Linked DNA regions of Homo sapiens: region 2 is linked to region 1. Evidence: fine-mapped expression QTL. Tissue or cell type: lung. Region 1 holds a variant in brackets; the other region holds the start of a gene. All regions are shown on one strand. Distances are from middle to middle.

Evidence for each region. PIP is the estimated chance that this variant, and not a neighbour inherited with it, causes the effect.
Region 2: it holds the start of TUT4, and the variant in region 1 is fine-mapped to the expression of TUT4 in lung (TOPMed, PIP 0.94).

What each region holds. Positions count from the first base shown.
Region 1 is chr1:52,421,030-52,429,292 of GRCh38, reverse strand. It overlaps TUT4 (terminal uridylyl transferase 4), which reads left to right. Exons shown (of 30, transcript NM_001009881.3): 29 at 3,786-3,944; 30 at 5,291-6,018. The coding sequence ends at 5,358. Among named protein-coding and RNA genes, the nearest start is that of PRPF38A, 21 kb to the right of the region's middle. RefSeq lists an enhancer at 5,364-5,413. The variant T/G (reference allele first, on the strand shown) is at 5,074.
Region 2 is chr1:52,549,987-52,557,986 of GRCh38, reverse strand. It overlaps TUT4 (terminal uridylyl transferase 4), which reads left to right and starts at 4,895. Exons shown (of 30, transcript NM_001009881.3): 1 at 4,895-5,056. It overlaps LOC105378723 (a long non-coding RNA gene), which reads right to left. Exons shown (of 4, transcript XR_007066083.1): 2 at 7,183-7,307; 3 at 6,581-6,630; 4 at 5,150-5,746. RefSeq lists silencers at 4,193-4,592, 4,603-4,712, 4,753-4,882, 4,953-5,282.

The sequences.
Region 1 (8,263 bases):
TAACACGGTGAAACCCCGTCTCTACTTAAAAAATACAAAAAATCAGCTGAGCGTGGTGGTGGGCGCCTGTAGTCCCAGCTACTCGGGAGGCTGAGGCAGGAGGATGGTGTGAACCCGGGAGGCAGAACTTGCAGTGAGCCGAGATCGTGCCACTGCACTCCAGCCTGGGCGACAGAGCGAGACTCCATCTCAAAAAAAAAAAAAAAAAAACCTATTATGGAAATTTTGAAACATACACAAAAGACAGTAAAGTATATAATGAACCCCCCTCCCCATTAACCAACTTTAACAGTTATCAATAATTTGCTATTCTTTTATCGGATTCCTAGCCATTAAAAATATTTTTGACTTGACTGATCAAATCTCAGACATTGCATCAAATTTGCTTTTTAACTTCAGTTGTGTCACTTAAAAAAAACATGAGATCATTGCCATACCTAGTATCATCTAATACCCAGTCCTTGTTCAGTTTTTCCTGTTTATCTAAAAAAGTATATAGTTTTTTGAGACAGTCTCGCTCTGTTGCCAGGCTGGAGTGCAGTGGAACAATCTCGGCTCACTGCAACCTCCGCCTTCTGAGTTCAAGTGATTCTCCTGCCTCCCGAATAGCTGAGACTACAGGTGCGCACCACCATGCCCGGAATTTTTTTTTTTTTTTTTTTTTTTTTAGAGGGAGTCTTGCTTTGTCACCCAGGCTGGAGTGCAGTGGCACGATCTCAGCTCACTGCAACCTCCGCTTCCTGGGTTCAAGCGATTCTCCTGCCTCAGCCTCCCAAGTAGCTGGGATTAGAGGCGCCTGCCACCACGCCTAGCTAAATTTTGTATTTTAGTAGAGACGGGGTTTCACTATGTAGGTCAAGCTGGTCTTGAACTTCTGACCTCAAATTATCCGCCTGCCTCGGCCTCCCAAAGTACAGGGATTACAGGTGTGAGCCACCGCGCCTGGCCCTAATTTTTGTATTTTTAGTAGAGATGGGGTTTCATTCACCATGTTGGCCAGGATGGTCTCGATCTCTTGACCTCATGATCCGCCTGCCTTGGCCTCCCAAAGTGCTGGATTTACAGGCGTGAGCCACTGTGCCCAGCCTAAAAAAGTATTCCTATTATCGATTTATTTGAATCAAAATTAAAACTGTGTGTTTGGTTTTTATATCTCTTTGATTTTTATCTCTCTTAACTGTCCTTTATAACAGTTGCTGCTTCTGTTTTTTTTCCGATATTAACTATAAGGCACTGTAGAATTTCCCATATTCTGGAGTTGGCTGATTATGTCTTTGTGGCATCATTTAATGTGTACCTCTGTCCCTGTATTTCCTGTAAACTGGGATTTAGATTCAGAGACTGGATTAGATTCAGGCTCTTTCTGTTGGTAAGAATGCTGCTTGGTGGGTCCGTGTATTTCCAGTTTCCTCACTTCAGAAGGAACTTACTGTCTGGTTGTAACTATTTTAGTGACTTAAGATTGATCTGTGAGTTAGGTTTTATCAGCCTGTTTTACCCATTATCAAATTCATCATTTTTACTTAATAGCCTTAGCTGCCATTGATAATTGTTGCCAGTATCCATTATTTTGCTGTCTCCAGCTTCTTTTGGAACAATGCAAGTAAGGTATTTTGCTGAGCAAAAATGCCAGAATATGGTAACTTAATTAGATTTCTAAGATCAGAGGATATATGGCATACATGGTCCTTCTCATATATCATTCAACATGTTTATTGTGTATATGCCATGACATGCACTGTGATAGTCACTGAGTTATAGAACCATGAAGACAGACCCAGTGTTTTGCCCTTTGATGTATCAGCTCCATTTTTATAATTTGAAGTCTTCCATCCCCCTGCAACTTGTTGTTCTCAGTGTTTTAGTCATAGTGAACTAATTAATGTCCCACAAACATACTGTACTATCTCTTACCCCTGGTTGCTTATCTAAGTTGTTCCTTCTGCTTGGAATGTCCTCTCCGTTACCTCTGCTGCTCACTCTCACCTTCTTCTGTGCTGCCTCAAAGCTTGGCTAACTCACTCATCCTCCATTTTTAAATTTAGATCACTTTCTTCAGGAAATCCTCATTTTCTTAGTATTCATATCATAACATTTGTCTTACTGTGCTGAAATTGTCTGTTTACTCATCTGCATAACCCATTAGACTGAACTTCTAGAAGCAAAAAATTGTTTTTTGTCTGTCATTTTCTGTCTAGTAGTGAGTTTAGTTTTCTCTTTAGTAGCCTGCCATGTTCCTGTTATATAGTATTATTATCTAATAAGCTATACTTAATATTATTCATTGTATAGATACTCAATTCATAATTGTTATTAAAGCTACAGTTACACTGTGTTGAAAATGGAAGGACTGAATGGAAATATATTAAAATAATAATCATAGTTGTATCGGAGGAGATTATTATGAGTTTTTTTCCCCCATTTTTCAAATTATCTTTAATGAGATTGTATTACTCATTTTCTGGAAATTTTGGGTTATGAAAAACAGGCAAAGGGGATTGGAATATATCTTTTAAAAATACCCTTTTATGTTAAAACATCATTTCTCATTTGGTTATGACCTAATTCTGGATATACCAGTTTCACTTATTTTTGTAAACCCTGAGCCCTTCAGATTCAGCCCTTAGTTGTAACTTGGCTTTTATGAATTCACAGTGAACTAGCTGGTTTGCTTACTTTCTGAGAAGATTCAGCTTCTAAGAATGCAGTTCACACGGGCTTTAGTTTTTTTTGCTGCCTACTCTTTCCTATCCCGTACTTAATTTGAGTTCCTGCTGAGAAGTTTAGTGAATAAGGGCAGTTATTCCCTTTTATTCCCTAGCACACTGTGACTCTGAATGAGAAAAGCCACCAGAATGATCCAGAATATAAACTGGGTACTGCACTTCGAAAAATGTACTTAAAGATACATTTTAAAGGGAAATAGATTTGGGGGGATAGTTAGCCATAAAAAGAATAGGACTTACATTTTTTGAGTACCTACCTATATGCTAGCTCTTGTGCAAGCTACTTTCTTTTGGTTATCCAATTTAAACCTCATAATCTGAGGTTCAAAATGGAACCTTAGTAGTTTTAGGAAATGAGATTTGAGCTTAGACTTGTTTGGCCTCAAAGCCCAAGTTCTCAACCATTATGCCACAATGCCTCAAGCTTGTAATAGGATCTCCTTCCAGGCCAAGATATAATTGATTCTGGGATAGTTGGCATTGTCTTTAGGATAAAATCTTAAGTTCCTTTGCATGATGTACTAAGGTTTTTTGAAATGTATATCCCCACCTACCTGTCCCGCCTTTTCTCTTACCACTTCCTCCATCACTCCTGTCTCTATGTTGCAGATTGTTGTGCAGTTCCCCAAACTTGATGTGCTTTCCTGCTTTCAGGCTTTTGTACATGATACTCCTTCTCTCTGAAATGCCCCCCACCCCCTCCCTATTTTGCCTAAATTTTTCCTTGTTTTCTAGAACTCATATTAGTCAATCATCTTACGAAGACTGTCTCTAACCTTCAAAGACTGGGTTAGCCCTCTCTTCAGAACATTTTGCCTGTTCTACTAGCAATTATTACATATTGTTGTGTATATATATATCTCTTCTTGTATGTCTCTTATGAATAATTTGAGCAAATACCAATGCTTTATTCTTTAAAAAAGTTTGTTTGGTATTCTCTGAATTTAGCATAGTTCTTAGCCAATGGTAGGTACTGAATATATCTTTGTGGAATGAAGGGATATTTCAATGAATGAACTAATGTTTTTAAATGTCTTTTTCCCTCTTGTTGAAATGCAGAGCCAGGCTTTCGAGGACTGACTCCTCCAATTCCTTGGGAACATGCACCGCGTCCCCATTTCCCCCTTGTCCCAGCTTCGTGGCCTTATGGTTTGCATCAAAACTTCATGCATCAGGGAAATGCCCGATTCCAGCCCAACAAACCTTTCTATACTCAAGGTACCACTGCTTACAAATTAGTTAACAGGCTTGGGTGGGTTTTATTCTGGGATAGAGAGCCTTAGTGAAGGCCAGGATCTGGGAGTGAAAATTCATGAATTCAGTAAACATTTACTGAGAAATTATACTGTGTGTCAGATGGTGCTAGGTGCTTGTAAAACAAAATCTCCATTACTTGATGCACACTTTATTAGGAAAGCCAGACATGTTAAATAGAAAAGGAGTTTAGATGAATCAGTTAACATTGCCCTAGCAAATCCAAACAGGATGTGGATTTAAGATTATTACATCACAAGATTTTGACAGTTGAGCTAGATCTTGAAAGAGATGCAGGAATTTTTTTTTTGCCTAGAGATGAGAGAGGAGGAGGAGTATGCTTAGCTGAGGGATTAATATATGCAGTCACTGAGTTTTGCCTGGCATAATGAAAAAGAGTAGAAAATATTAGGGCTAGAGGACGGAGGTATATGGGAAAGATGGTGATAAGGCTAGAGAGGGTAGGCTTAGACCATATTATGGAGTTTGGACTTGGTTTACTGAGCATTGGGGACCTAATTAAAGGTTTTTAGTGGAACGAAGACATAATCATATTTGTTTAGTAAACGTAGGACTTGAATGACCTTAAAATTTATTATGTTCTGCTGGTGCTATTGTAGTACTAATAATGGCTTTGACTGGGTAATGAATATTACAAACAAAGAATTCCTAGAAACTTGGAGCATTTTATCTAACCTACTTGCCTCAGAGGTATTTGTTCTTATAGGCATTGTCTGAGTCTGGCCTTCAGCTCTTTGTTAACTTAGTTCAGAACACTTGGGTCAGAGTCAGTATAGTTAAACTAGGAGTTCAAGAAGTTAAAACAGGCACTCAGGAAATGCTGATTGAATGAAATGATAACTTAAAGGGGAAGTGCCTGGTATGGTCTCAGGCTTGTTATATTTAAGCCTTCTTAAACCACCCATATACTACTGGGGCATCCCTGTATTGTAGAGTGGCAGAGCCTTGACTGTGGTTGAGCTCTTCTCTTGAGCAAAGAACTGGGGCTGAAGGAAGTTACTATTAGTCATAAGCCCTTTTAGGAGGGGAGAGTCTGCAACTCTTTTCTAGTGGGTTTTTTCCCTTTGATTCC[T/G]CCTCTCCATCTTTCGTGTCCTCTCCTTTTTTCACATACAGGTATTTCCTTCCCTTCTTCATTTTTCTCCCCACCCTCTCAAATGTTTTGCAGCATGCTTTATCACCTCCTATTATATAAATAGAAAAAAAGAAAGCTAACTACAAGTTAATTCTAAGGTGTTGTCAGATAAACAGGCACAAGCCTTTCAGTTTCCTGTCTGTGTTGTATCCAACAGACAGATGTGCCACCCGTCGGTGTAGAGAGCGTTGTCCCCACCCACCAAGAGGAAACGTGTCGGAGTAATGCGAGTCCATTTTCTTTCAGCTGGTCTACCGATGCACAGCAACCAGCCAATCCTGCTGTCTCAAGGGTATCCGTACCTCAATGTCAGTTACATTCAGCAGAAAAAGTGACATTTAATGGAAAGCAAAACAAATCAGGTCCTGATTTAAAATTTTAACACGTTTAGATAGCTTATTTAAATTCTAAGACTGTTTTTACAGACTGTATTATTTGTATATAAATATGAACTATAGTTTTTACTAGTATCACCAAATTGAGTGATACAAATTTCATCTATTTTATTACCCTATTTTTAAGGGAATTTTATGTTTTGTTTAACCTTGATGAATTGTATAAAGAGAGAATTTAAAAAATTACATTCTTTATTTTCTATTAGCTGTATTCATACTTTGGTTGCTTCAGACTTTATATATTGTTCTTAAAAGTTAGGAAAGAATTTCATGTGTTTTAAATTGTCACTTCTATTCTTTACAGAACCTTGTAGTGCCAAAAACTTTTTAAAAGGTAAAAAAATAAAATAAAATTACAACATGAAGATTCAGATTTTTTTTCTTTTCCATACTTGTATATTGAACATTCAAACTTGAATGGAAAGTTGATTTTGTCTGTATTTGAAGTACTTCTATTTTAAGTTAATAAATCTTTTTGACAAGAGTTAAATTTGGTTAATCTGTTGTATAGATGATGGAAATATTACGTAACAAGATTTCTTTTAATTTCAGTGAATAGAGCATTCTAAATCACAGATTTTAGTTTTAGAGATTCAAGTAACATTTCATATCCTTTATTTGGTTGGATGTTCACAACACCCATATGAGGTTGATAGAAGCGGAAGCCATTTCCATTTTATCTTTGAAAATAAAAACTGAAATGCAAAGCAGTCAGTAAATTCCAAAAAGCAAACAATGCTGGAGTCTGAATTGAAAAGTATTTGGAAAGAGAATTTTAAAACACTGAGACTAATATTGGCAATTAGAGTGGAGGGAAGATTACTTTTTTTTTTTTTTTTTTTTGAGATAGAGTCTGTCTGTCACCCAGGCTGCAGTGCTGTAGTATGATCTCGGCTCACTGCAACCTCTGTCTTCTGGGTTTGAGCGATTCTCCTGCCTCAGCCTCCCGAGTAGCTGGGATTACAGGCATGCACCACCACACTTGGCCAATTTTTGTATTTTTAGTAGTGGCGGGGTTTCATCATGTTGGTCAGGCTGGTCTCGAATTCCTGACCTCAGGTGATCCACCTGCCTTGGCCTCCCAAAGTGCTGGGATTACAGGCGTTGAGCCACTGCACCCAGCCCAGACTGTATTCATTTTGAGTCCTATACTTCCACCTGGAAAGCACACTTGCCAAGATGATAATTATTTACCAGTAATACTTGGAATTAATTATTATTGGGTATTGGAATTCAGACTCGAGTTGTTGGTGGCATAATGTTTTAGCTGTTTTAGCAGTGAGGTGAGGTAATTTTCTCTAACCCCTTAATTAGTCCGTCCAGTTGCCTGGGATTTTAGGCTAAATGATGCTATATATCTATTTGGAAAGGTGCAGAATAAGTAGATAAAAATGTAAGGACAGTGGGTTATCTTTGCTGCGCTTCCTCTGATATACATTACTTAAATAGGAGACTGCTTGGGCCCTTGCCATATTTTGCAACATGGAAGATATTTGAAACCTATTGCAGGAGGTTGAGGGTATTCATGCTGTATTTACAGCCCTGAGTTAAATATATTTACTATTTTTTTTACCTAACCTGAGTTAGGTATATTTACTATTTTTTCTTATTAAAGCGTCAGCATCTTTCAGAATCCTATTAAGTGGTGGACTTAAATCATTTATTAACAAGATACCTGACCCAACTATGCATTCATGTTAAAATGACTTGGAGCATTCAAGATTTAAATTAACATTCAATACTTCATGTCCTTCCACATCTTGGAGAACAGGTAATGACGTATACAGGGGTGTTTATTATTCTCTTTACTTTTGTACATACAGTAGGCCCTCCATATCCATGGGTTTTGCATCTATGGATTCAACCAACCACGGATTGCAGATATTAAAAAAAACTGTGTCTGTACTGAACTTGTACAGTTTGTTATTATTCCCTAAACAATACAGTATAACAACTTTTCCCACAGAATTTCCATTGTATGAGGCATTATATGTAATCTAGAAATGATTTAAAGTATAAAGGAGGATGTGCATAGGTTATATGCAAAGACTACACTATTTTATATCAGGGACCTGAGCATCCTTGGATTTTGGTATATCTGCGGGAGGTCCTGGAACCAACCCCCCACCAGATACCAAGGGGAGGATTGTATTTGAAATATTCATTAAAAATAAAACAACTTCCAATAACAGAATGCCCCAACCCCTCAGCCTTTCTTCCTTAAGGAAGGCAGTATAAAATACCACTTGGCAAAACCTATTAACTGGCAACCTAGTAACCAACAGCCTAGGTTTTACTTATATGATAGTGTTATAGATACTAGTTTTCAGCATCTCATTTGCCCCTCCTTCAGTAACTGCCAGTGTTCAATAATTGGCAAAACTGTTCTGTTGAAAAACATATAGTTTAAAATTGATATAGTAGAAACTCAGATTTTAAGTCTGCAAAGTAGATTATGAGTTCAGATTCATTGTAGAGCAGTTAAGTAGAAAATTATCAATCTTATACAGGGAGAACACACACATTTAAGACCAAATTGTTTTGAAATGTTCTGTTTAATGACATGGAGATTAGTATTTTCCCTTGACATTAGGGTTATTAAAAATATAAATATGTACTGTATATTTGTTTATATCCCCTACAGATGGACATTTTTGCTGTTTCCAGTTATTCTTATATATACATATTATATATGTAATGTGTAAAATGATGATGGGATAAAGCTATTTGTGTGT
Region 2 (8,000 bases), 130 kb before region 1:
TCCTGCCCTAGTTTATCTGGTTCACACCCTTTTCTTTCTTTTTACATTTAAGAGTCAGGGTCTCACTCTGTCACCCAGCCTGGAGTGCAGAGGCACATTCATAACTCACTGAAGCCTCCACCCCCGGGCTCAAGTGATTCTCCCAACTCGGTCTCTCAAGTAGCTAGGACTACAAACATGCACCACCATTCCTGGTTAAATTTTTAATTTAATTTAATTAATTTATTTTTTGAGACAGAGTCTCCCTCTGTCATCCAGGCTGGAGGGCAGTGGCATGATCTTGGACCACTGCAACCTCCACCTCCCAGGTTCAAGTGATTCTCCTGTCTCAGCCTCCTGAGTAGCTGGGACTACAGTCGTGTGCTATGCCCAGCTAACTTCTGTATTTTTTAGTAGAGATGGAATTTTAACCATGTTTGCCAGGCTGGTCTCGAACTCCTGATTGCCAAGTGATCCAACTGCTTTGGCCTCCCAAAGTGCTGTGATTACAGGTGTGAGCCATGGTGCCCAGCCAAATTTTATTTTTTTGAAGATGGGGTCTCACCATGTTGCCCAGGCTGGTCTCAAGCTCCTGGCCTTGATCCTCTTGCCTCAGCCTCCCAAATTGCTGGGATTACAGGTGTGAGCCATCATGCCTGGCTCCCTCATTTTTATGTATAAAGAAGGCTGATGTTATTCCTAAGGTCAGGATTACCAACAAATATGTATCACAGAAGGAAAAGTCCAGCTCTGTTGAGGAAGTACTTCTTTTTCCTGGAACAGGCAGATTTGGTAAGGAATGAGCTCTCTATAGCTATGAATGTACAAACAGAAGTCAGACGAACACCTGCTGTATAAGGCAAGTCTGAACATCTCTCTCCTTGTTTACAGATGTTCCATGATTGCCCATTAACTTCAGAATAAAAACTTGCTTTTTTAACAATGATGCGGTCCTAGTCTAACTTTATAGCATCATCTTCTGCCATGTATATATGTTCTTGATATCTCTAACTTTATGAACGCTAATGTCCTTTTAAATTCTAAAATCTTATTCACTTAAAAAAATGCCACCTTAAGAAAAACTGACTGTTTCTAATGTTTCAATGAAGTAAGCTGCAGGGTGTGGCTGTAGTTTAAAATTCCACGCATAGAATCCTCAGGACAGATGAAATGGAATCAACAGGTAGAAAGTACACACATGTGCTAGTGTGAGTCTAAGGGCACATGAAATCCAAATGGGGCAGATGAGAAGAAACTAAATTTTAAGAAGAAAGGGAATTCATTTGTGTGGAACATTTACTATGAAATAGGCATTTTTACACATTTTCATCTCATTGACTTTTAAGAATGCAAACAGACAAAGAGAAGTAAATCCTTTACACTATCTTGAGGTGAGCACACACCTCAAGAGCTTTGGTATTGTCATGATCTTTGCAAGAATCACAAAAATTTTAGACACTGACCATATCTTATGCTTTATAGACAATTTAGAGTGTCAACAAGCAATTTCTGAGTGCTTTCTATATGTGTCAGGATTATGCTGGGTGCTGAAAATACAAAGGTAAAGGAGACTTGGTTAGGACCACATCATGGGGGTGATGCACTGTTTTTCACTAGAGATCATTATCACCCAGGGCCTATAGTCTCTCTCCTTGGAGAAATCAAGTACACAGGAAAAAAAAAAATGGGGCTCAGAGAAACAGCTTAGCAGGTCTGATTGTATTTATCTCTGCTTACAAGTGATCAGTGATTCCCCAATAACTATAATATAAAGCCTGCTTTTTTTCCAGTGGCATACAGGGCCCTTTATGATCAAACAGCAAAACTTGGTTTGAACAGACTTAGGCACCTTTCTTTTTTCTTGAAATGGAGTCCTGTTCTGTCACCCAGACTGGAGTGCAGAGGCATGATCTCGGCTCACTGCAACCTCTGCCTCCCGGGTTCAAGCGATTCTCCTGCCTCAACCTCCTGAGTAGCTGGGATTACAGGCACCCACCACCATGCCTGGCTAATTTTTGTATTTTTAGTAGAGATGGGGTTTCACCATGTTGCCCAGGCTGGTCTTGAACTCCTGACCTCAAGTGATCTGCCCACCTCGGCCTCCCAAAGTGCTGGGACTAGGCACCTTTCTTGTTATAATTTTACTTACCAAGTCACCTTTTCATTCAATATTATTAGTTTTTTACTAAGTTTTCTTATTCACCTAGGAAGACAACAGAATATGAATATTGATCCACTGAGTAATTATATTCCTCATGAGATACAATGAAATAAGATTTTTACTGCAAGTTATTTTCACCTGGGTTTGGATGAAACTAAGTTTTCAGAACTTCCAGACTGGAGGCTTAACCACAATCATGAGATTTCCCTTGAAAGTTTAAGTCCTCAGAGGATTTTTACATAGAAATCAGACATTTACCATTTTATATCTCAAAAACCTGTGGTTCAATGGGAAGAATACAGGGCTGGTATTCTAGTCCAGCCTGTGACTTACTGTATGACCCTGGGCATGAATTAAACCTTATACTCCATAAATTTCCTTATTCTTTGTGTCAGAACCATACTTGCTCTAGCTGTGATGATAAAATTATAGTTGTCAAAATTTTCAACTCGACAACTATGTAGGTATCAGAAGGAATACCTTGTAAGTATCTGTGCTGAAGTGTACAATCTATTGGGGTCACGGAATTCAGAGAATAGAGGGATCACATTCAGTGGAGTGCAGAGGAGGGGTGGTAATCAGGAAGATTTAATAAAGAAGGTAGAGGTTGAGCTGGGTCTTGGGGAATAAGCAAGGTAGTAGAAGAGAGTATCTGGAGGGGATAAGGGCAGAGAGGCACTGAAATTTTCAGTCTGGCCCCAGTTTTCTTTTCCAGATTCATTATCTTCTGCACACTCCAGAGTCAATGCTGCCCTCTGAATCACAGACATGTGTCTGGCACACAGCAGACAGATCTTCAAGGTCCAGCTTTTAGTTCTTCCACGGAAGTCTCACCAAAGTGGAATTTATCACACTCTCCTCTGGATTTGCCCAGCCCTTTGTTAATAAGACCTGTTGCTTTTATTGTAGCTCACCTGCTTGCTCAATGGGGAACTTTTTGGAGACAGGAAGCAATGATTTGTCTTTGTTTCCCTAGGCACCTAACAACGCTTTGCTCTTAAGTAATTAGGAAATGTTTACTCAATTGAACTTGTTCTAAGGACACTGCTATCACTGAATTGAAGGGCATGTCGGTATCTTCTTAGTGTCTCTATAGGCTTTAGGCTTTCAGCCGGGTGAAGTAGGGATTTTTTCTTTGTTTCCAGGCTAGTCAAGCGAAGCAGGGATACAGATTAAGAATTTGCAGATGAGGAAACTCAAGAGGGTACATTTGCTCAAAGGCATCATGTTGATAAACGCCAAAACCAGGTAGGGCTCTTTTGACTTGAAATCCAGTCCTCTATCCATTATACCTGGGCCTTGTAGCATCAGCCAGATTGGGGTAAAATGCACTAACTCTGAACCCTAGTTTTTTCATCCGTAAATGAGAGCAACAGTACGTAACTCACAGGGCTATCGTGAAGTGGAGCGTCCCTCTGTGACCTCTAACCAGTCCCAGCCTGAGTCACATTATAAGAAAATTTATAAGGCACTATCTTGTAAATACTTAAGATTTAACATCTTCCCTTCACCTCTACGTCCACTCTTTTCATACCTTTTTCCTGCCTAGCATGTGTCAAACTCAAAGGACTGGGCACAGAGCACAGAGGTTGTGTGCTTTGTCCAGCTTTGAGGTCAGAGATTGGCTAAATAATCTCTGAGGCTGGGGTCTTAAAAAAAAACAACAAAAAACAAAACTAACAAAACCTTAAGTCCGTTCCGCCCGTGACTTTAAATAATTATGTAGAGGAATGTAATACGTTAAAAGCAAGGGGATGAGGGGGCCCATTGATGGTAGATGGTTTTATGCCCGCCTGCAGCTAAAGAAATGATTTCTAAAACCTCTTTTGGGGGTGGGAGATGGAGTGCTCCAGAGATTTCTCTTCGAGCTCCTTCATTCCTGAACTGCCTGCCTTTTCAAAGGAAAAAAGGTCCAGCTGCGGTGGGCTGGAGGCCGTGGTGAGTGGGTGGGGGTCGACCCTGGCGGCTTCCTCTGCCCCGCTCCCTACCGTTGCTCCGAAGCCCGCTTGGGCTTCCGAGGGTCCGCCGAGGCTCGGGCCACGCCCAGTCCGAGTGCCAGGCCAGAGGGTACCCATTCCAGGCCGGCCTTCCTCCCCAGGGGGAGCAGCCTTGGGAGCGAGGCGCCGAGGCGGCCCTCGGGCTCGGCTTCCAGCTCGGGGGCCTCGGCAGAGACTAGGAACCAGACTGGGGCAGCACTGGGGCGCCCGCCACCCCCACCCACTCCGGCAAGCGGGCGAATCAGCGCGGCTAACCCGCGGCGCCCAGGCGGGCTGCGGGACCTCGCGACCTCCGCTCGGCGGCCCCGCCCCTGCCCGCGAGCCCCGGGTGGCTCCCTCCTCCCCTCTGCCAGCGGCCCGCCCCCTCCTCGCGAGCTAACGAGTGTCTCTCGCGCGCTCCCTTCCCTCCGCGTGGGTGTGAGTGCGCGATCCTCCTACCTCGGCCTTCTCCCCATTGTTTCTTCGCGGCCACCACGAGACCCCTCCCCCCAGTGCTGTTTCCCCCCTCCCCCGCCCCGGTGTAAACGGTGCCTGTGGGGCCCCCCGAACGAAGGGAGGGGGCACCCCTGAACCCTTCCCTCTGCGCGTAGCTCCTCCTCTCCCGGGCCAGGACCCCATTACAGGCTCTGTCCTCTCCCCTCCCCCTCTCCCCCGGCAACCGCTCTCCCTCGCCCCCTCCCCTCAGCGGGTCCTCCTCTTTCTCTCCCTCTCCCTCTCCCTCCTCCTCCCCCTCCCCATCCCTTCCCCCCCACAATGCAGTTCGCGGCGCGGCGGACATGGCGGTGGAGTCCTGAGCTAGTCGTGTCCCGGCCTCCAGCGGCGGCAGCGGCGACGGCGGCGGCAGCAGGAGGCGGAGGGAGAGCAGGAGCCACTGAGATGAGGAGGCGTCGCGCGCGCCTGTAGCTCGCGGGCCTCGCAGGTACGAGGTTCCGGCCGCGGGGCAGCGTCGGGTACCGAGGGGGTGTGCTCGGGAAGGCCGGGCGGCCCCCGGTTCGCCCTCCCCAGGTGCCGCGCTTCGCAGGTGTCGGGGGCCTGGCCTGAGAGCGTCTCAGCCGCCCCCTGGGGGCCTGACACTTCTTTCTTTCCTGGAACGGGCTTCGGGTGTCCCAGGGGAAGGCTGAGATAAGGGAGGTGGGGACGGCGGCCTGGGCGGCCTGAGGAGGGCATTGGGGCGCTTTGGGGACGAACTCCACACTGTGGCTGGGGCTCCCGGTCCCGGACCGAAACCTGTTGTAGACCAGCGGGGCGGATTTTGAGTTAACGGGATTGGTTTGAACATTTCTGTTGGGTCCAGTTACGATTCCCTGTCATGTGTACCTTTTTCTTTCACCCTTGCTTAGACATAGGTGACTACATAATGTATATAAATGTATACACGCATATAATACATACTGAATGTTTCCCCGGGCTCGTCCTTGTAGGGAGAAGGCAGAGGTGTCTGTGTGGATTTTGTTTCTTGCTCGCCCGCCTTCTCTCTCCCCCGCCCCCCAGTCGAAAGGTGGTAATGCGCGGTTTTGACGTGGGTAACTGAGATTCGTATTTGTAAACAGATAGCGCTCTCCTAGTGTGTTGCACGCCTCTGCGAAGGGTTTCAGACTCCTGTTGGTATCTGGATTGCGAAAGAATGAGATGTTTAGACCTGAAAGAAGCACATCAGCGGGATTTCTAGTCGTACTTGAATGGGATGAATTACTGTTGTATTAACAACGTTGATTACACATTTTCTTTTCAGAAGATTTCGAAGTCTTAGATGAATTTTGCGTGAGATCTTAGATACCGTATATCTGCTTCTTCATTTTGATAGAAGTAGTAGTTCCTTACACATTTGACCTGCCCTATCGTGATCTTAAATTGTGTCCAGAAATGCAATTCGAATTGTGTATTGTTGGCATGCATTTAGTAATTAGCCCGAGTGGATCAGATGGCCTTTTATTTCCAAAGATTTTTTCCCTCCAGTCTTACAGCAGCGAAATGTTTGTAGCACTTGATGAAACAGAACATATCCTGTTTCTGTTTTTAAAGTAATGAGAACTGTTAGCTAATAAAATTGGATAATCCCAGCCAGATATGATAATTCAGAGAATACCACCGAGAGGTGTTGAATTGTGGGATGGTTTAAAAAGAAAAGCCGACTTTGTGTGTGTGTGTGTATGTGTGTGTGTGCGCGCGCGAGCGCGCTGAAATTTTCTTTAGGCTTAGAACTCATGTATGTCACTACACTGCATCGTAGTACTGATTAGTCACAACTGGTAAAATGAAATATTGATTCTCTTAAAAAGCTGTGCTTAAGATAACTCATTAGTGTCTAGTGTGCTATGTTGCTTTTATAAACAAATTTTTAAAGATTGCTTCTTAGAAACCATATACTTTGGGGAAGATAAGAATTTTAAGTCGTTTTATGCTTTAAAAATATTTATATTTAATATAAACAAAAGAAACTTACTTTTAAAACTCTTAGATAAATTTTTCTGCTGCTTGCAGTTTTTCACTTGGCTAGTGTGGAAAATGAAAAATGAAGTTTTCTTAAAATAATTCAGAAATGGAAGTGAAAGTTAATGACATTTGATGTTTTAAATCCAGCAAACATTTAAATACAGAAAAGAAATTTAAAGTATTTTCATTGTCATAGGCCAAGTTGTTAGTACAGATAAATTAACAAATATTGTCATGCATATAAGTTCAAGTTTATAAATTCTAAGTGACACCTAAAATTACATTTATTTTTAGTTGCTGGAGCTAGAACAGTACAGTGTCTACATTTTAATTTTAGACCTTTTAGAATCAAAATGTATAATTATAAATTTCTCTGATTAACAAAGAGCTGTTTAAAGAGAATTTTTATTAGCTCTCAGCAGATTCATTTTAGAGTAAGTAATTAGAATTCTTTTTTATCTCAAAGTTAATCTTGACATAAAAATAAGTACCATTAATTATGTTGTGTTCTCTACAGAATGTCAAATCAGGATCTGTTGATCAAGAAAGGTGTTTGAATTTATTCACTGTTAAAGTTTCTAGTTTCAGAGAAACAAAATAACCAACACTTACCTGTAGGGCCTGGCCAGGTGGCTCACTCACGCCTGTAATCTCAGCACTTTGGGAAGTGGAGGCGAGAGGATTGCTTGAGCGTAGGAGTTTGATATCAGTCTGAGCAGCATAGTGAGACTTTGTCACTGCCAAAAAATAAAAGAAATTAGCTGGGCGTGGTGGTGTGCGTCTGTAGTCCCAGAAGCTGAGGTAGGAGGTTTGCCTGAGCCCAGAGTTCAAGGTTGCAGTGAGGCACAGTTGCGCCACTGTACTCCAGCCTGGGCGACAGAGTAAGACCCTGTCTTAAACAAAAAAAAAAAAAAAAAAAAGCAATACTTACCTGTTAATGTTGATGCCAGAACATTTTGTTTGACAAAATAGAACTCAATGAGTTGTGTTCCTTTTTCAAATAAATTGCAAATACTTGAATTGATTAAAAAATGTTAAATTCAGTTAAAGCCACTGCAGTAGGATAGAAATACGTTCTAAAAAAGAACAATTCCAGAAAGACCTAAAAAAGTCAAAGGAAAGGGACACCATACTTTAAAACAGGATATGTAGACTTTTTGTTATTAATCTTAGAGCAATTAGAGTTGTTTACTGGGTACTAACTGAATTGTTTTAATTCTAGAATCCTAAATAATTACATAATTTGGGGGAAATGTTTAAAAACCATCATTTCTGCAGAGTATTTTTCTTTCCTTTTTTAAATCTTTATTTTATTATGTACAGACTATATTCAAATAAACCACACACTCTGAAAAAGCAGGTTCCGACTTTTCCTCCGGAGTATTTCTTACAGGCCCAAGGAGAAGAAAGGGTATATAAATGCAAAGATT